Regions from separate parts of the Homo sapiens genome. Here region 2 is linked to region 1. The links come from fine-mapping of genetic effects on gene expression. Tissue or cell type: whole blood. Region 1 holds a variant in brackets; the other region holds the start of a gene. All regions are shown on one strand. Distances are from middle to middle.

Region 1 (8,107 bases):
TTGAGATGGCCTTGTAAGGAGGGAAGGTCCCTGTTGCTGCTTCTACAAGGAAGTTGGACTGATAGGGAAATGTGGAAACAAAGGAAGCTTTTGTCTTATCTCTGAAGCGAAGCCTTGTATGGTGGTTTCCAAATGCCTGTCTCATGCCCTACAGCATCAGAATCACTCGGAGTGCTTCCTTAAAATACAGATATCTACACCCATGCAACACATTGAATTCCTAGGAAGGGGCCCAGGAATCTGTGTGTGTGTGTGTGTGTGTGTGTGTGTGTTGACATGGAGTCTCACTCTGTTGCCCAGGCTGGAGTGCAGTGGCGTGATCTCGGCTCACTGCAACCTCCATCTGCCAGGTTCAAGTGATTCTCCTGCCTCAGCCACCAGAGTAGCTGGGATTACAGGCGTGCACCATCACACCTGGCTATTTTTTTGTATCTTACTAGAGACAGGGTTTCACCATATTGGCCAGGCTGGTCTCCAACTCCTGGCCTCATGCGATCTGCCTGCCTTGGCCTCCCAAAGTGCTGGGATTACAGGCATGAGCCCCTGCACCCAGCCTGAAGGGTTTTTAACAGTTTTATTAAGATGTAATTCACATACTATACAATTCACCCATTTAAAGTGTATGGTTCAATGGCTTTTAATATATTCACGGAGCTGTGCTTCCATCTCTATAATTTCAGAACATTTTCATTATCGCCAAAAGAAGCACTGCTCTCCTTAGCCATCACCCCAATCCTCCCGCCTCCAACCCCCAGCCTTAGGCAAGCCCAAGTTTACTTCCTGTCTGTATAGATTTGTCTGTTCTGGGCATTTCATGTAAATTGAATCATGCACTGTGTGATCGTATAGTGAAGTGTGTGAGTTTGGAGCAAGAGCTAATTGGTTACAGGCAACAGAGGAAAGGCTTAGAGCACCACTATTGTCTTCCCCACTGAATGCCGGATGTCACCCCTCTAAATAAGTGTGGAATACATATGTAAAGATATTGGCTTATAGCTGGGCATGATGGTGTGCACCTGCAGTCCCAGCTATTTGGGAGGCTGAAGTGGGAAAATCCCTTGAGCCTCGGAGCTCAAGTCAGCCTGGGCACACCGCGAGAGCCTCCTGTGTCTAAAAAGTAAAAAAGAATATTGGCTCGAAGGAAGCTAGTCAGTCTTCCTGTAGGTCCAGCCTTGTATTACGCCAGGCAATCAGCAGGGGTCACTGCACTCCAGCCTGGGTGACAGAGCGAGACCCTGTCTGAAAAACAAAACAAACAAACAAAAGTAAACCCGTCCCTCTGCAAAACCAAAGCCCCCCAGTTGACGATGCCCACCGCTTCTTATGAGGCATTTGAGCAATCGTCTGTTATTGCAAGAAAGGGGAATGCCACTTCCGGGAGATTCAACAGACAGAAATTTGGGAACTCTATAAAATGCTCTATTTCATAGACATTTTTTTCCTGCATCATTACCTTTCTTGAAAAGTATTAGTGCTCAGAGTATGTGTGTATTTCAGTATTCATATGGATTTATTCATCTGGCTGTGGTATAATTGCATTTTTTAGATGAGATCTGTTTCCTTCTCTAACTTAATTTTGGAGCTTACCTAAGCCATGTCCCAAGGGAGGGAGGTAAAATAGGGATTAAAGGATTTGCAGGATTTTTGTTTGTTTGTTTGTTTTGAGACACTGTAAGATGATGCCCAATTTTCTGAGAGTCTGTTCCTCCATTAAGATCAGATCACAATGCAGTCTTGGGAGATTGCCCAGTGCTGTGGAAATAGTGAGGGCTTTGGCTGCTTGAGTTCAAATTCTGGTTACCTTTAACAAATGTGACTTTACTTCTCTCAGCCTCAGTTTTCTTATCTATAAATATGGAATATTGGTAGCTTGCTTATAGAATGATTCTGAAGAGTAAATTAAATAATAAGCCTGGCACATAATAATAGCTGTTCTGTAAAAATGTAGCAAATATTACTATTATTTAACTTCTCATTTCATATATGTTATGTTTCCTCATTTGGATTCTTAGCTCCTTTGAGTATTGTCCCTGATCCCCACATAGCTCGTAACATAGTGTGTCCTATGCAAAAGCCAAGAAAGAGTTAGGAAAGAACAGATTGTAGAGGACACCTATGAGCCACCTGCCCAGGCTTCTTTTCTTTCTTTCTTTCTTTCTTTTTTTTTTTTTTTTTTTGAGGCGAAGTCTCTGTCACCCAGGCTGGAGTGCAGTGGCACAATCTCAGCTCACTGCAACCTCTGCCTCCCAGGTTCAAGCACTTCTGTCTGCCTCAGCCTCCCAAGTAGCTGGGATTACAGGCACCTGCCATTATGGCCGGCTAATTTTTGTATTTTTAGTAGAGACGGGGTTTCGCCATGTTGGCCAGGCTGGTCTTGAACTCCTGACCTCAGGTGATCCACCCACCTCGGCCTCCCAAAGTGCTGGGATTACAGGAGTGAGCCACTGCGCCCAGCCAAGGCTTCTCTTTTCTGGACTTATCTATCCTGATTCCCATTGTCCATCCACAAAGATATGAAAATGGGCTCCAGCAGCTTCTATGAGTGACTTTGCCCCCACTCCTCTTATCCTCAGCCTCAGTTGGTTGGACTAGGTGAGGACACCCAACTTAAGCTTGGCCAGGGAGTTCAGTGAGTTCTTAGCCAGTGGGCGTGAAACTGATCCTCCGTGTTCCACTGTAGTTGTGATTTGAAGTATGTTCACAAAATGTGATTCTAGGCAGCCATTCATAATGCTTCTAAAATTTTTTCTAAGCCCTAAGAAAATGGTCATCTTATAATGTTAAGGTAAAAAGGATAAGACAAAATTATGTAGACCTCACAGATTAGAAAATATATATGCATGAAGTACTGGAAAGAAAATACATAAAAATGTGAATAGAAATAGAGGGATTCTAGATAATTTTCTTTTAGTTTTTAATACTGACTGTTAAAGAGAAGTCTATATATTGGGGGGAAGGTGGGAGTAGGGGGAAGGAGCCAATGTAGATTTTCTTCTCTCTTCCCTTTAAAAAATTTTTGCTTCTCTGGTCTCAGTTTTCTCAGAATCCTAGCTATCCTTGATATCTGATAAAAATAATTCACACACGGGTGTTAACAACTTGCTAGCTCTCCAAGGGTGTTATTATTTGAAAATGGGCTTCCAGACGCAAGATGACTTCATGCAGAAATTCTCAACCATTGATCCTTTGCAGAACTAGGCTAAGCAGTTCTACCAGTTTGCAGGAGAAAACATGATAGAATTGTCTAAAATTAAAATTTTCTCCCATAAATTTTCCCTTGGTGCCTGCCACCAATGTCTCAATTAGAATTTTGTAGTCTGAACAATAGAATCACTGGGGAGCTTTAAAAATATACAAATTCCCCTGCTCCATCTTCCAGATTCCAGATTTAACTGGCCTTTTGTGGGGCCCGAACCGCTATGGTTTTTAATCCTTTGTAGGTGATTCGATCCTTCAGCCAGGATTGAGACTTATATATAATTATAATTATATAATTATACTGACAGTATAATTGATTGAATGCAAAATTCTATATTGAGTAATTTTGTTGTCTCCAGCTTAATAGCGTATCCATATTTTGCGGGATTTCTGAAGGAGCTGCATGGGTTCCAGTTGCCCTACTAATTGAATGAATTTGGAAACTCGTGCTTGACCTGAACCCTCGGGCGGCGCCGTTCCCAGTGGGGAAAGAGACTGTTTGGAGACATCGCCCTCCAGTGACAGCACTCGGGAACTGTTGAGAGGCCTGGGTACACCTTTGCTTCCCATTGATTGTTCCTCTAAGAACAGGGGTGCTCTGAGCCCGTTCCAGCCTGTGAAAGCTCCCTTGAGTTCGTTGTACGTTTGTCCTTGCCCGGATGTGTCGGCAACACGCTTGGAGGCATAAACAGAACAAAACTTCAGACGTGTTCTTAACTGTCAGGAGTAACAGTTGCAGATAAAAGCTGCAGAATTGCTCA[A/TCAA]TACTGGGAAGGCTGAGCACAACTAGAATTATTCCGGTAACTTAACAGAAAAAATAAATAAACATGTCAATAGTTACAGGGTTTAGGAGGGAGGGAGAGTGTAAATTCATAGCAAAACATTTGGAACATTCCGTTTAGCCCCTTCCCTTGTGCGGGGGCGGAAGTCTGAGGCGAGTGGGGTGCACTGTGGGGAGGGGCAGCAGAGAAGAAGTCTCACCAGAGTAGACAGGACCAGGGGGCCGTGCTGAGCCCTGGCCCCAGGAGCTGGCAGGTGAGAAGAGACTCATCTCTGGAAATAATGCTTGAGAGTCCATCTGAGCCCCCTGGGAAGCTTGTCCAGAAAGCTCCCGGCAGGTCCCATTCCTATCAATTGTGGTTCAAGAGGCCTAGGAACCCGAGAGGGTTCTGAGAAGCAGTGGCAGGGCCTGCCGTGCATCCAGTACCTACTTGGTAGCAGGTGTGGAAGGAGGCCTGTGCCCTCGTTCAGTCCTTACAACAACCCTCTGTGGTAGTTGGTACCATCCCCATTTTACAGATAAGGAAACTGAGGCTCGGGGAGGTGATGTGGGGTGCCTAAAGCACCAGAGCTGAGCAGTGATGGAGTCTGGACTGCAGTACCCTGTTGCGGGCGATGAGGGGGAGCTGTCACAGGAACAAGCCAAATCCTGCATTAGGAGGCTCAGTGCCAAAGGTCGGAGCAGGACCAGAGATGACGTGGACCTGCATGCCTGGTCCACAGCGCTCCTTGGGGACCTTCTGTTCTCCCTGAGGAAAGGGTTGGAGTCAGGTGGGAACGTAGGAAGGAAGAGAAGGTAGAGAGGGGAGAGGAGGCATGACCAGCCACCAGACAGGGGGGAGTCAGAGCCACCAAGGCAAAGCGCTGGTGAGCGGGAGGGTGGGGGCCCCGGGTCTCTTCTGCTTCCTCCTCAGTCTTTCCCCTCAGGCTCCTTTCTTCCTTCTAGAGCTTTTCTTTCTTTTTCTTTCTTTCTCTTTCTTTTTCTTTCTTTCTTTCTCTCTTACCTTCCTACCTTCTTTCCTTTCTTTCTGTTCTTTTTCTTTCTCTTTCTTTCTTTCTTTCTTTCTCTTTCTTTATTTCTTTCTCTCTCTTTCTTTTCTTTCTTTCTCTTTCTTTCTTTCTTTTTCTTTCTTTCTTTCTCTCTTACCTTCCTACCTTCTTTCCTTTCTTTCTGTTCTTTTTCTTTCTATTTCTTTCTCTCTCTCTTTTCTCTTTCTTTCTTTCTCTTTCTTTCTTTCTTTCTCTCTCTTTCTTTCTTTCTCTCTCTTTCTTTCTTTTTTTCTTTCGACAGAGTCTCGCTCAATTGCCAGGCTTGAGTGCAATGGCGCAATCTTGGCTCACTGAAACCTCCGCTCCTGGGTTCACACCATCCTCCTGTCTCAGCCTCCTGAGTAGCTGGGAATACAGGCACCCGCCATCATGCCCAGCTATCTTTTGTATTTTTTTTTAGAGACAGGGTTTCACCATGTTGGCTAGGCTGATCTTGAACTCCTGACCTCAGGTGATCCACCCTTCCCCAGCCTGCCAAAGTGCTGGGATTACAGGCATGAGCCACTGCGCCCGGTCCCATGTTCCTTTCTTACTTCTCCACCATCCTTGCTTCTTCTTTCTTCACTTCCCCTTTCTTAGAAAAGGGGTTTTCTCCTCCCTCACAGATCCAAGGCATGCCCTCACTCCTCACAGGATGGCAAGGAGAAACGATCAATCGCTTAAGTAATAAAAAACATCCAAATCAGACCCGTCTGCAGTCAGAATCCACAGCAGTCCTTCCGCAGCACAGCAGTCCTTCTGCAGCACAGCACTGCCTCCGCCGGCCGCCTTCCTTCCCTCGGAACTGAGCCCATCCAGGGCTGCAGAGCGGCCTGCAGTCCCTGGTGGCAACAGCACTTAGCGGCGCCTCATGTTTAATGCAAGCAAGCTTCGGAAACAGGAAAGCTTTCAAGATACAGCTGAAGATGCACGAGCGCTGCCCTTTACAGAGCAAACACGAATGTACAAAACCAACGTGGGTTTTCCTGTGTTACAATAATTGTGTTCTCATCTGTACAGATTTAAGCTAACCGCTTCTGTCAGAAGAAAGGAGAAATCTATATCCAAGGGCCTCTGTGGCCTAGAGAGGCCTGAGTCACCTCTGCTTTTTGAGTCTCCTAGTAATTTTAAAATGAAAAAATTCCGGCCGGGCGCGATGGCTCATGCCTGTAATCCCAGAACTTTGGGAGGCAGAGGCGGGCGGATCTCCTGAGGTCAGGAGTTCGAGACCAGCCTGGCTAACATGGTGAAACCCCATTTCTACTAAAAACACAAAAAATTAGCGGGGCATGGTGGCACGCGCCTGTAATCCCAGCTGCTCAGGAGGCAGAGACAGAAGAATCGCTTGAACCCGGGAGGCGGAGGTTGCACTGAGCCAAGATTGTGCCACTGCACTCCAGCTTGGGCAACAACAGCGAAACTCCATCTCCAAAAAGAAAAACGAAAAAATACTAAAATAGGTTATACAATTTGTAGTTCATTTGTAAATGCTCATCATTAGCAAGTTAATATTTTTAGCACAAAAGAGATAATGCAATATAATTGTGCTAGTTACTAGCTAATTACAGGATTTGTAAAAAGTAATCATTCCTAGTGTGCTATAAGTAATGGGGCACAGGTGTATAGCTGTATTTTGAATAACTTCTTTAACCTGTTAGGATGTGATTCCTTTGGGAAAAAAAATTAAAGATCTAAAGTAGAAATCTTTTGTGTGGCTGTGTTAAAGTGTATGATATTGATGACTATGAAAGTTTCCCTTCTGCTAACATAGACACTCTTGTCTCCAAACAAGTTCAGCTGTGCTTCCCACTCAGTCACTCATTCTGGATGGTTTTGTTAGCATATCCATGTCCTCTACCCTGTCTTCAGAGTGCTTAGGTTGAAAGGCTTTATAAATACCACGTGTCTAGTCCAATACCCTTTCCTCGGCTATCTGGACCCAAAGCACCATGCCAAGTCAATGCAGTGCTACAGAACTTAGGGTTGTTTTTTTTTTTCCCCCTCCTGAATATTCCTAAATAACTCAGTGTTTTAAAAGACTCTGATGTATCTTGGAGAAATGGCTGATCCTAGGACTGGGGCAGGAAACATATGAGATGAGCTGGGAGTATTTTGTAATCTCCAAAAGTAAGGAAGTACTAAAAAACAAAAAGAAACAAACAAAACACCCATATATTGATGGGGGTATGTTAAAGAGACACAGGAACCAACTGAAACTGTTCCCAAAGGCCAAAGCTGGAACAATTTGAGCAACAAAACCAATGAAATAGTATTAGATTATAACCCAAAGTATAAGATAAATATCCATGAGTTTGTATTGATATAAATGATTGGATAAATAAAGGGTTTGGGACACAAATCTTCCTTGCAGAATAATTCCAAACAGTTTTTTGCAGATACTCTACCCTCAAGAAGATACAGTATTAACTCTACACTTCTGAAGTGTGAGCTATCTACGGTGACTTTGCTTCCCGAGAATACAGTATGGAAATGGGAGGGAAAGAATAACTTTACAGTGGAGAAACTTGACAAATACTATTTCAGCCAGGGGATCAAGCCCAACATCATGCTGACAGTGTGTACTCTTGATAAGATATGACTAAAATCACACTTTATCTCTGTATTCCTCCTCTGTAACATCCACAATCCCAGTCTAATCATGAGGAAAACATCAGACTAATTCCAATAGAGGGCATCCTACAAAATACCCAACCAATACTCCTCAAAACTGCCAAAATCAACAAAAATATATGGAAACTCTTAAGAACAGCTGCAGACACTGCAGAAAGCCTAATAGCAACCACTCCTCAGAGGTCTGAACACCAGCCCTGCAGGGCCCATCCCCTAACCTTCTAGGTTCTGATCATCTCAACTCCTTTCCTTTGAATCCTCCAGCTTTAGAGGTGGTGCTGCTTCCTGCTATTTTTAGCCCTGTATTACAGTAATGTTCCTCCTTTGCTATTCCACCCCCCAACACCCAATTCCCTGTATAAATTTCCTCTGTTGAAGTACCTTGTGTGGTTTCTGTTTTCCAAACTGAGCTGTGCCTGTTACAGTGCTTGGTACCAGGAAATAGACCCTCAGGGATGGGGATTTGGAGGTT
Region 2 (8,107 bases), 55 kb after region 1:
AATTCAGACTTGTGACATGCGGCAACTGGCTAACAGATTCATTTCATAAGACTCTTACTGGCCAATCATTTCTGTACTGAGAGAAGACTGTCATTTCTAAAAAGGGAGGCAGGAGTTACATTACAGTTCTTGTTTTTAATCAAGAAGGTGTGAACTTATCTTCCATACTCAAAATGCAGTCTATCAGCTTAACAACACATTTTCAAATATTAATTTTGGAAAATATCTTAGTCATATTTTTCACGTTATAAGTAGTTGCCAGGGAGTGAGGAGAAACCATTAATTAAACAGTAAGATAAACTCTATGTTTAAGCCTCACTTAAATGAATACATCCAGTCAACACTAAAAAAACTATTTGGGCCAGGTATGATGGCTCCATCCCTATAATCCTGGCACTTTAGGAGATGGAGGTGGGAGGCTCACTCAAGCCCAAAAATGTGAGACCAACCTGGGCACAGTGTCTACATTGTGAGGCCCAGTGTCTACAAAAAATTTTTTTAAAAATTGAGTGTGGTGGTGCTGGCCTATAGTCTCAGCTACTCAGGAGGCTGAGGCAGGAGAATCGTTTGAGCCCTGGAGGTTGAGGCTGCAGTGAGCCATGATCATGTCACTGCACTCTAGCCTGGGTGACAGAGACCCTGTCTCGAAAAATAAGTAAATAGTTAATTAAAAATTAAAAACCCATTTGAAGGCTTATCAATTAAATAAGGAAACCTGGAAAGTAATCATACCAAAATGGTTGGAAAAGCATTACTCCACAGACTGATCCAACAAAATAATGAAAAAAGCTCATGTCAGCATCCAGGTATTTTCTGTCTCTGTATAATCCTGATAACTATGTTAATTGGAATACTGCATCAGGAAATGCTAATTGGACGTACACATGAACAGGAACACACAGAAGAGCTAATGAAATGAACTGAGGAATGGTAAGATTGGTTCATAGAGGAAAATATCAAGCAAATTAATAAACAGAACTGAATAACTGGAAACTAACCTTGGGCTACGAAAAAACTATCCAAATACACAAGGATGGCTTATTCATCATTGCACATGAGTTCATTCCCAAGAGAGAATGTTAAAAGGGGGGAAAAAAAGGTTAGTATAGAACATCAAACATTTTTCATGAGATTTAACCTCCTATCAAGATAAGATGGGTGGTGCCACAAATGAAAACATTAGGTCTAAGCAAATGAAAACATTACACTTCTAAATGCAATGCATTAATTTCAGGACTAGGTGAACACAAGCCACTCTAACTTTTTCTCACTAACCTCAGCAAAGTAGGCTAAGGATATTACAGAGCAGGAGCCAGATAATTTGGCAGATGCTAATATATACAATTATAAAAAGATAACGAGGACAAGAAAACACAGGCCTCCGGATAAAAATGAGCCTTTACTAGGAGAGCAGGAAAGCCGTCTTTCTTTTTCTAAGTACTTATTTCTGTAAATACTAGCCTGATGGGTAAAGGATATAAATATAGTTGGTATCTGTAGGGGACTAGTTCCAGGACATCTCTTCCTACCCCTAAGATCTGAGGATGTTCAAGTCCCTGTTATAAAATGGCATATTTTCATATAACCTATGCATACCTGTATTCTTTAAATCATCTCTAGATTGCTTCTAATACCTAATACAATGCCTACACATCACTTCATTCACATGGATTCAAGGCAGTACTTGAATATGGCAAATTCAAGTTTTGCTTTTTGGAACTCTGCAGAATTTTTTTCCCCCTCAAATATTTTTTTACTTGAGTTTGGTTAAATCACAGGTGCAGAGCCTACGGATAAGACAGCTGACTGCAATATAGTAAATTTTGATTACCAAGTATCTCATTAAGTGTTCCCAAGTATTTCATATATTCAAGGTTAAAATGATTCGGGCCGGGTGTGGTGGCTCACACCTGTAATCCCAGCACTTTGGGAGGCCAAGGCGGGCGATCACTTGAGGTCAGGAGTTCGAGAGCAGCCTGGCTAACATGGTGAAACCCCATCTCTACTAAAAAAAAAAAAAAAAATTAGCCGTGTGTGGTGGCGGGTGCCTGTAATCCCAGCTACTAGGGAGGCTGAGGCAGGAGAATCGCTTGAATCCGGGAGGCGGAGGTTGCAGTGACCTGAGATCACACCCCTGCACTCCAACCTGGGTGACAGAATGAGATTCGGTCTCAAAAAATAAATAAATAAATAAATAAATAAAATTAAATGATTCTTGGTATTTTTAAAGAAAACAAAATTTAAATGTTTTAATAAACTGCAGTTAAATTCTTTCAACAAAAGTAGAGTGTGTATAAGCAAGTAAAAACTAAAAGTTGTCTTGAAGTCTACCACTGTCATTTCCCTCCGTGTAATACTGCTCTACATTTATGAAACCCTGTTTTTCCTGTTTGATACATTTTCCCAAGAGCTTGCCCTAGAGCTAAATTTTTTAACGCTTCTCATGTATCACTTAAATAACAATTGTACTAAAGTTTGTTTTTATTACTGAAGGCAAAAACTCCATTTTTGCCTGCCCATAAAAAATCATTGTTGTATCTGACATTTTTAAAGTGTACATTTTAAAGTGTCCTATCACATAATATGAACATAGGAAGAGAATGTCATGTTAAAAATTAGCAAAGTAATTGTTTCTGCACAGAATGCATTTTTCAATTTGGGCAGTTCTCCCAGAATAAAGTAAACAAGTGAAGCAACTAGCATTCTTACTAGAACAGTGACAAGGCATTTTCTTTTTAGTTTCTTTTCACTTATTAGTCTACTAGGATACTTGAATACTGTCTCTATGCTGGTGTCTAAAACCCTCAAAGGAGAGTACAATTGCAGGATAAACGAAGAGTGTCCAGGAAGAGAACTAGACAAGAAAGGAAACAGATGGTCTCTGGGCTCGGTGAGCTTGGAAGCTGTCGAAAGCAAACTCGACTGGACCCTCCAAACTCCTATTTCAGATCAATACATAAGGTTCAGCTGAGTTCGGCCTCCAGGCCCAAGAAAGCAAAAGCCAGCAACCCGGGGGCTGGTCGGCGGCTCCCTCGCCAGGGACGCCCCACAGCGAGACCATGCCTCTCCCACCTCTACCCCCGAAAACCAAAACAAAACAGAACCAAGCCCAAGCGGTGCTTGCTCGTTTCTTTTGTCTTGCTCAACGCTGACCACTTTTTTTCCGGAGAAGGTTAACGTTAAGGGAGCCCGGGGGAGCTCTCTGCGACCCCGCCAGGTGCTCCCCGAACCCCCGGCCCCATCAGAGGAATGAGGCGACCACCGAGCGGCGTTGGGCGGCCAGGTCCTCCCCGGCACCCCCGCCCCGGCTCCTGGAGGAGGGCAGGGACTGCCGGCCTGGGGCAGCCAGGGACCGACGGGACCCCCGCAGAGCCAGGCCCGAGGCCCCGGGCGCCCCCACGACCCGGCGGCCGCCCAGGGCGCCCGCCTGGGGCCTCACCCCAACCGGGGACAGGGCCGCCGAGGGCCGGGCCAAGGCCGCCCGGCTTGTCCCCGAGGCCGCCGGGGAGCGTAGGCCGCCGCCATCCCCGGCCTGCCGTGCGCCCGCAGCCCGCGGCCTTACCGCCTCCACGGCGTGCTGCAGGATGGAGGTGAACTTGGAGAACATCCTGTCCCGGGACTGCAGCAGCCTCTCCCGGGACGACCTGGAGAGCTCCTCGATCCGCCGCCGCCGCCCCTGCTGCGGCTGCCGGGGCCGCTCCAGAGTGAAGGCCGGTGCGGGGCGGGGAGGACGAGCTGAGGATCGAGGCAGGGCCTGGCCCGGCCGCTTCAGGTGTGCGCGGGCGGCTCGGCGGCTCCGGAGGGCGCCGGGACGCGGCGGGCGGCGAGGAGGGCGTTCGGCGAGGACTCGGGGCCCGGAGAAGCTCCGGCGGCGGCACCGGTTGGGACACGGTGGCAGCCCGGCTCGGGTTCCTTCCCCCCGCTCTGCCCGCCGCGGCCTGCAGGGGGCGCCGCCGCAGCCCGGGGAGGCCCGGCCAGGCCTGCCCTGCGGCGGGGCCGCTAGGCGCCGCGGGGGCGGGGGGCGCGCTGAGGCCTCGGCCTCGCGCGGGGCTGGAGGCGGCCTGTGGGCAGCCACCGCCCTCTCCCGGCTTTCTCAGGGCGCCTGGGACACCGGCTTTCTAACATTTTTACAGCTCAGCGATTCTCAAGAGTTTTGTTTCTCCAGTGGAAGTAACAGGCTGACTTTGTAGGGACACGCAGCCGTCCATATATGCGTATAGCATTCAGAGGTTCTTCCTGTAAGGACCGATTTGGAAGACTCGTTAAGAAAACAGTGTTCTTTAAGCAAACATTGGCAATGGATTTAAATGCTCAGATTTTGAAGAAATCAACGACTGCAGGTGAAATGGCTTTGCTAACTTTAAAATATATTATTATTCAACATTGAAACAGGAAATCCCACATGAGCACATGGTAAGACGGCTGGCTTAGTTTAAATAGCCCATTATAATATTTATATATAATATATAACATAATTTATTTGTGATATGGTTGATAGTGAGGTGTAGTGATTCAGAACAGCATTTTCTATTCAGTTATCAGATGATACCGGAAAACATTAGCGAGGGAAAGAATCTGAAAGGAGTCCAGTAAATGCCTAAGGCAGATAAATAGAGCTACAAGGTAAGCACTTGGGTGGAGGCTGCTTAAAATACTCCCTAACAGTGTATTAGTCAAGCCTTGAAGAAGCAGTTCAGGCTGGTAAAGTTTAGGTTGAGTTAATACAAATTATGAAAATATTTGTATCCTGAAGAAATTTGTTTTATGCTGGTATTGGCGTTTTACCAAAAGGTTCATTAAGTTCTTAAGATGAGGTGGGGAGTGAGTTTTGCACAACCAGTGCTGAAAATACGTATCTGGCCCAGGCGCGGTGGCTCACGCCTGTAATCTCAGCACTCTGGGAGGCAAAGGCGGGAGGATCACTTGAGGCCAGGAGTTCGAGACCAGCCTGGCCAACATGGTGAAACTCCGTCTCTATTAAAAATACAAAAAAAAAAAAAAAAAAAAAATTAGCCGAACGTGGTGGTGTAATGGGATTACATGCTTGTAATCCCAGCTACTTGGGAGGCTGAGGCAGGAGAATCCTTGAACTCGGGAGGCGGAAGTTGCAGTGAGCCAAGGTTGCGCCATTGCGCTCCAGCCTGGACAACAAGAGCAAAACTCCATCTCAAAAAAAAAAAAAAAAATACACACACACACACACACACACACACACACACACACACATACATGTATACACACACATACGTTTATACATACACAAACGTATATATACACATACGTATATATACATGTATACACACACACACGTATATATATCTGTAATTGATTCATGGAACAGAGAAAAGGTGGCTGTCATATGGAGTGGTGGTAACTGGCCAGGCTCTGGGGCTGGGTAGCCTAAGTCCCAGCTCTGCCACCCACAGTGGAAAGTTATTTAACTTCTTTGTGTTTTAATTTGCTTATATGTCAAAAGGGGAGAACAGTACCTACCTCTTGAGGTTGTTGTGGGAATTAATTAATATATGTAAAACACTTTAACAGTGCCCAGTCCCTAGTAAGAGATGCACAGACACTTATACTTGTTCTGAGTTGTGGTAGTGGTATTTAGCAAAATAATAGGGCCAGAAATCAGGAATTAAGGAGGAGATCTTAACTGGGCTTCTTTTCCCTCCTGTTTTTGTGGTTTATATCCCTGCGGTGCTCCTTGGCAGATAAATACGACCTTAATTTTCTACGTACTACCCCCAGAATGCTGGAGGCATCCTCTGTTGTTTTGTGCCCCTTACCAAATTCTGGCCGTGTCTGCTTCAACTGAGAGCATGTATGTATGCTTATTGTTATTATATTCATACACAGTTTAAGATGGTTAGTCATATTATTAACCATAATTAGTTTCATGATCTAATTATCATGCATTTATATGGCATTTTGTAGTTCCAAAATGCCTTACAACCACTAATTGTATGAGGAGGTCTTAGTTAGAGTTGTGTGTATTTGATGATGTCTATCTTTGTGTACTTATTATAAACACAATAAAATATATGTTTTGCTCTAGATTAATATCAATATTTAGGATGGTGATTCATCTACCTGCTGTCTAGGTTTCAAGACACACAAGTTGGACTAGAATTGTAACTGAGCAGATATTCCTATTTCTGATTGTCATCCTAGAATGCCTGCTGTGACTCTGACATCATCAATTAGCTCAATACATGGGCACAGTCGGACCTGCCCCAAAGCCTGTGATTTGAGAAAACACAAGAAAACCTTCCCCTAGCCTCCAAACCACTTAGGTGTGGGTACCTGAAATTTCTCAGTTAGAACTTAATGCCTTTATCCCTTTGGCTTAAGCCAAATAAGAAACTTAGTCCTTGTTAAAATGAAAATACTCTTGGGAGATGTAACACATCAAACTCTGTCATTCATTAGACTTCAGGGGGAATGAATTTGTTAAATCCTTTTCTAAAATGAAGTTTAATTAGTGAAGACACAGAAAAATCTAGAAAATTGGAACCCAGTTGGGATGGTGTTGAGAAAAGAGATAAAAATAAATCTTTTTTTAACTTTTTAATAATAGTCATTCTGACTGGTGTGAGATGATATCTCATTGTGGTTTTTATTTGCATTTCTCTAATCAGTGATATTGAGCTTTTTTTCATATGCTTGTTGGCCACATATATGTTTTCTTTTAAAAAATGTCTGTTCATGTCCTTTGTGCACTTTTTAATGGGGTTGTTTGTGTTTTTTTCTTATAAATGTGTTTAAATTCCTTATAGATCCTGGGATATTAGACCTTTGTTAGATGCATAGTTTGCAAATATTTTCTCCCATTCTGTAGGTTGTCTGTTTACTCTGTACAATAAACACCGATGACATGAGTTTTACCTATATAACAAACCTGCGCATGTCTCCCTGAACCTAAAATAAAAGTTTAAAAAAGAAAGAGAAATAGAGTTAGATGATACCTGCTTCCAAATTTTGGCAGACTTCTGGAATTTGTGAGTTGAACACATCAATTGTTAGCAACATTCCCTCCTCAAATCCCGCTAAAATGACAGTAAAGAGATTTTCCAAAGCATATGCCCAAAAGGATAAGTTAGGAGAGAACAGCAATAGCATTTTCAGAATTAGAAAGTAGCCATAAGATGGGTTAACTCTGATGTGGCCGACCTAAGAAAGCTGAATCCTAAGCCAACAATGAAGAAAGCCAGGAATCAAAAGTCATCCCTTGGTATCCTCCATGGAGGCTTTGTTCCAGGACCTCCCAAGGGTACCAAAGCCTGAGGATGCTCAAGTCCCTAATGTAAAATGGTGTGGTATTTGCATATAACCTAGGCATCAATCTCCAATATACTTTAAATTGTCTCTAGGTTTCTATAATACCTAATACAACAAATGCTATGTAAATAATTGATATACTTTATTGTTTAGGGAATAATGACAAGAAAAAACCTGTACATGTTCAGTACAGATACAATTTTTTCCCAAAATATTTTCAAAAGTCTTGAAAGAGGTTGCCTCTGTGGAACAGGAGATTGAGAGTTTGGGAGGAAGGACAGAAGCTTTCATAACACACCTTGTAAAACCTCTTAACTAAACCCTATGCTGGTGTAACACAAAGTTTGTTTGTCAAGGGGAGAAACTAGGAGCAGGAAACCATTTCTGATGCTTTTGTGTAAGTTTAGACAAGGATTATAAGGGTTCATCCCTGTAGAAATAGGAAGGAGATGGTAGTCTTGATAGATGAGATGTGATCAACCAAATTTTCCAAGTGATAAAAGGAGTGATTTGGTGAAGTGAAAGATGTTGCTGGAGTTTCTAGCTTGGAAGAAGTTAGTTGAAGATGCCATTAATTGGAATAGGGACCATGGAGATGTAGAAAGGTGATGAGATGGATTTTTTAATATGTTAGAATTTGATTATCTATACAATTACATCTATGTGGAGACATAGAGTATTGGGTGATGAGTTTGAATTAGGAAGTAAAGAGAGAGATCTGGGCTGATAATAAAGATTGGAGGATCATTTCTTTCTTTCTTTTTTTTTTTTTGAGATGGAGTCTCACTGTGTCGCCCAGGCTGGAGTGCAGTGGCGCGATCCCGGC

The links. PIP is the estimated chance that this variant, and not a neighbour inherited with it, causes the effect.
Region 2: FHIP2A starts here. The variant in region 1 is fine-mapped to the expression of FHIP2A in whole blood (TOPMed, PIP above 0.99).

What each region holds. Positions count from the first base shown.
Region 1 is chr10:114,872,846-114,880,952 of GRCh38, reverse strand. It overlaps a transcript of FHIP2A not described here. Among named protein-coding and RNA genes, the nearest start is that of FHIP2A, 55 kb to the right of the region's middle. RefSeq lists an enhancer at 1-169. The variant A/TCAA (reference allele first, on the strand shown) is at 3,960.
Region 2 is chr10:114,817,579-114,825,685 of GRCh38, reverse strand. FHIP2A (FHF complex subunit HOOK interacting protein 2A) reads right to left here and starts at 3,906. Exons shown (of 17, transcript NM_020940.4): 1 at 3,563-3,906. The coding sequence starts at 3,607. It overlaps LOC124902508 (translation initiation factor IF-2-like), which reads left to right and starts at 2,738. Exons shown (of 2, transcript XM_047426127.1): 1 at 2,738-4,413. The coding sequence starts at 3,585. The coding sequence ends at 4,190. RefSeq lists silencers at 3,208-3,427, 3,488-3,837, 3,848-4,157 and an enhancer at 3,002-3,502.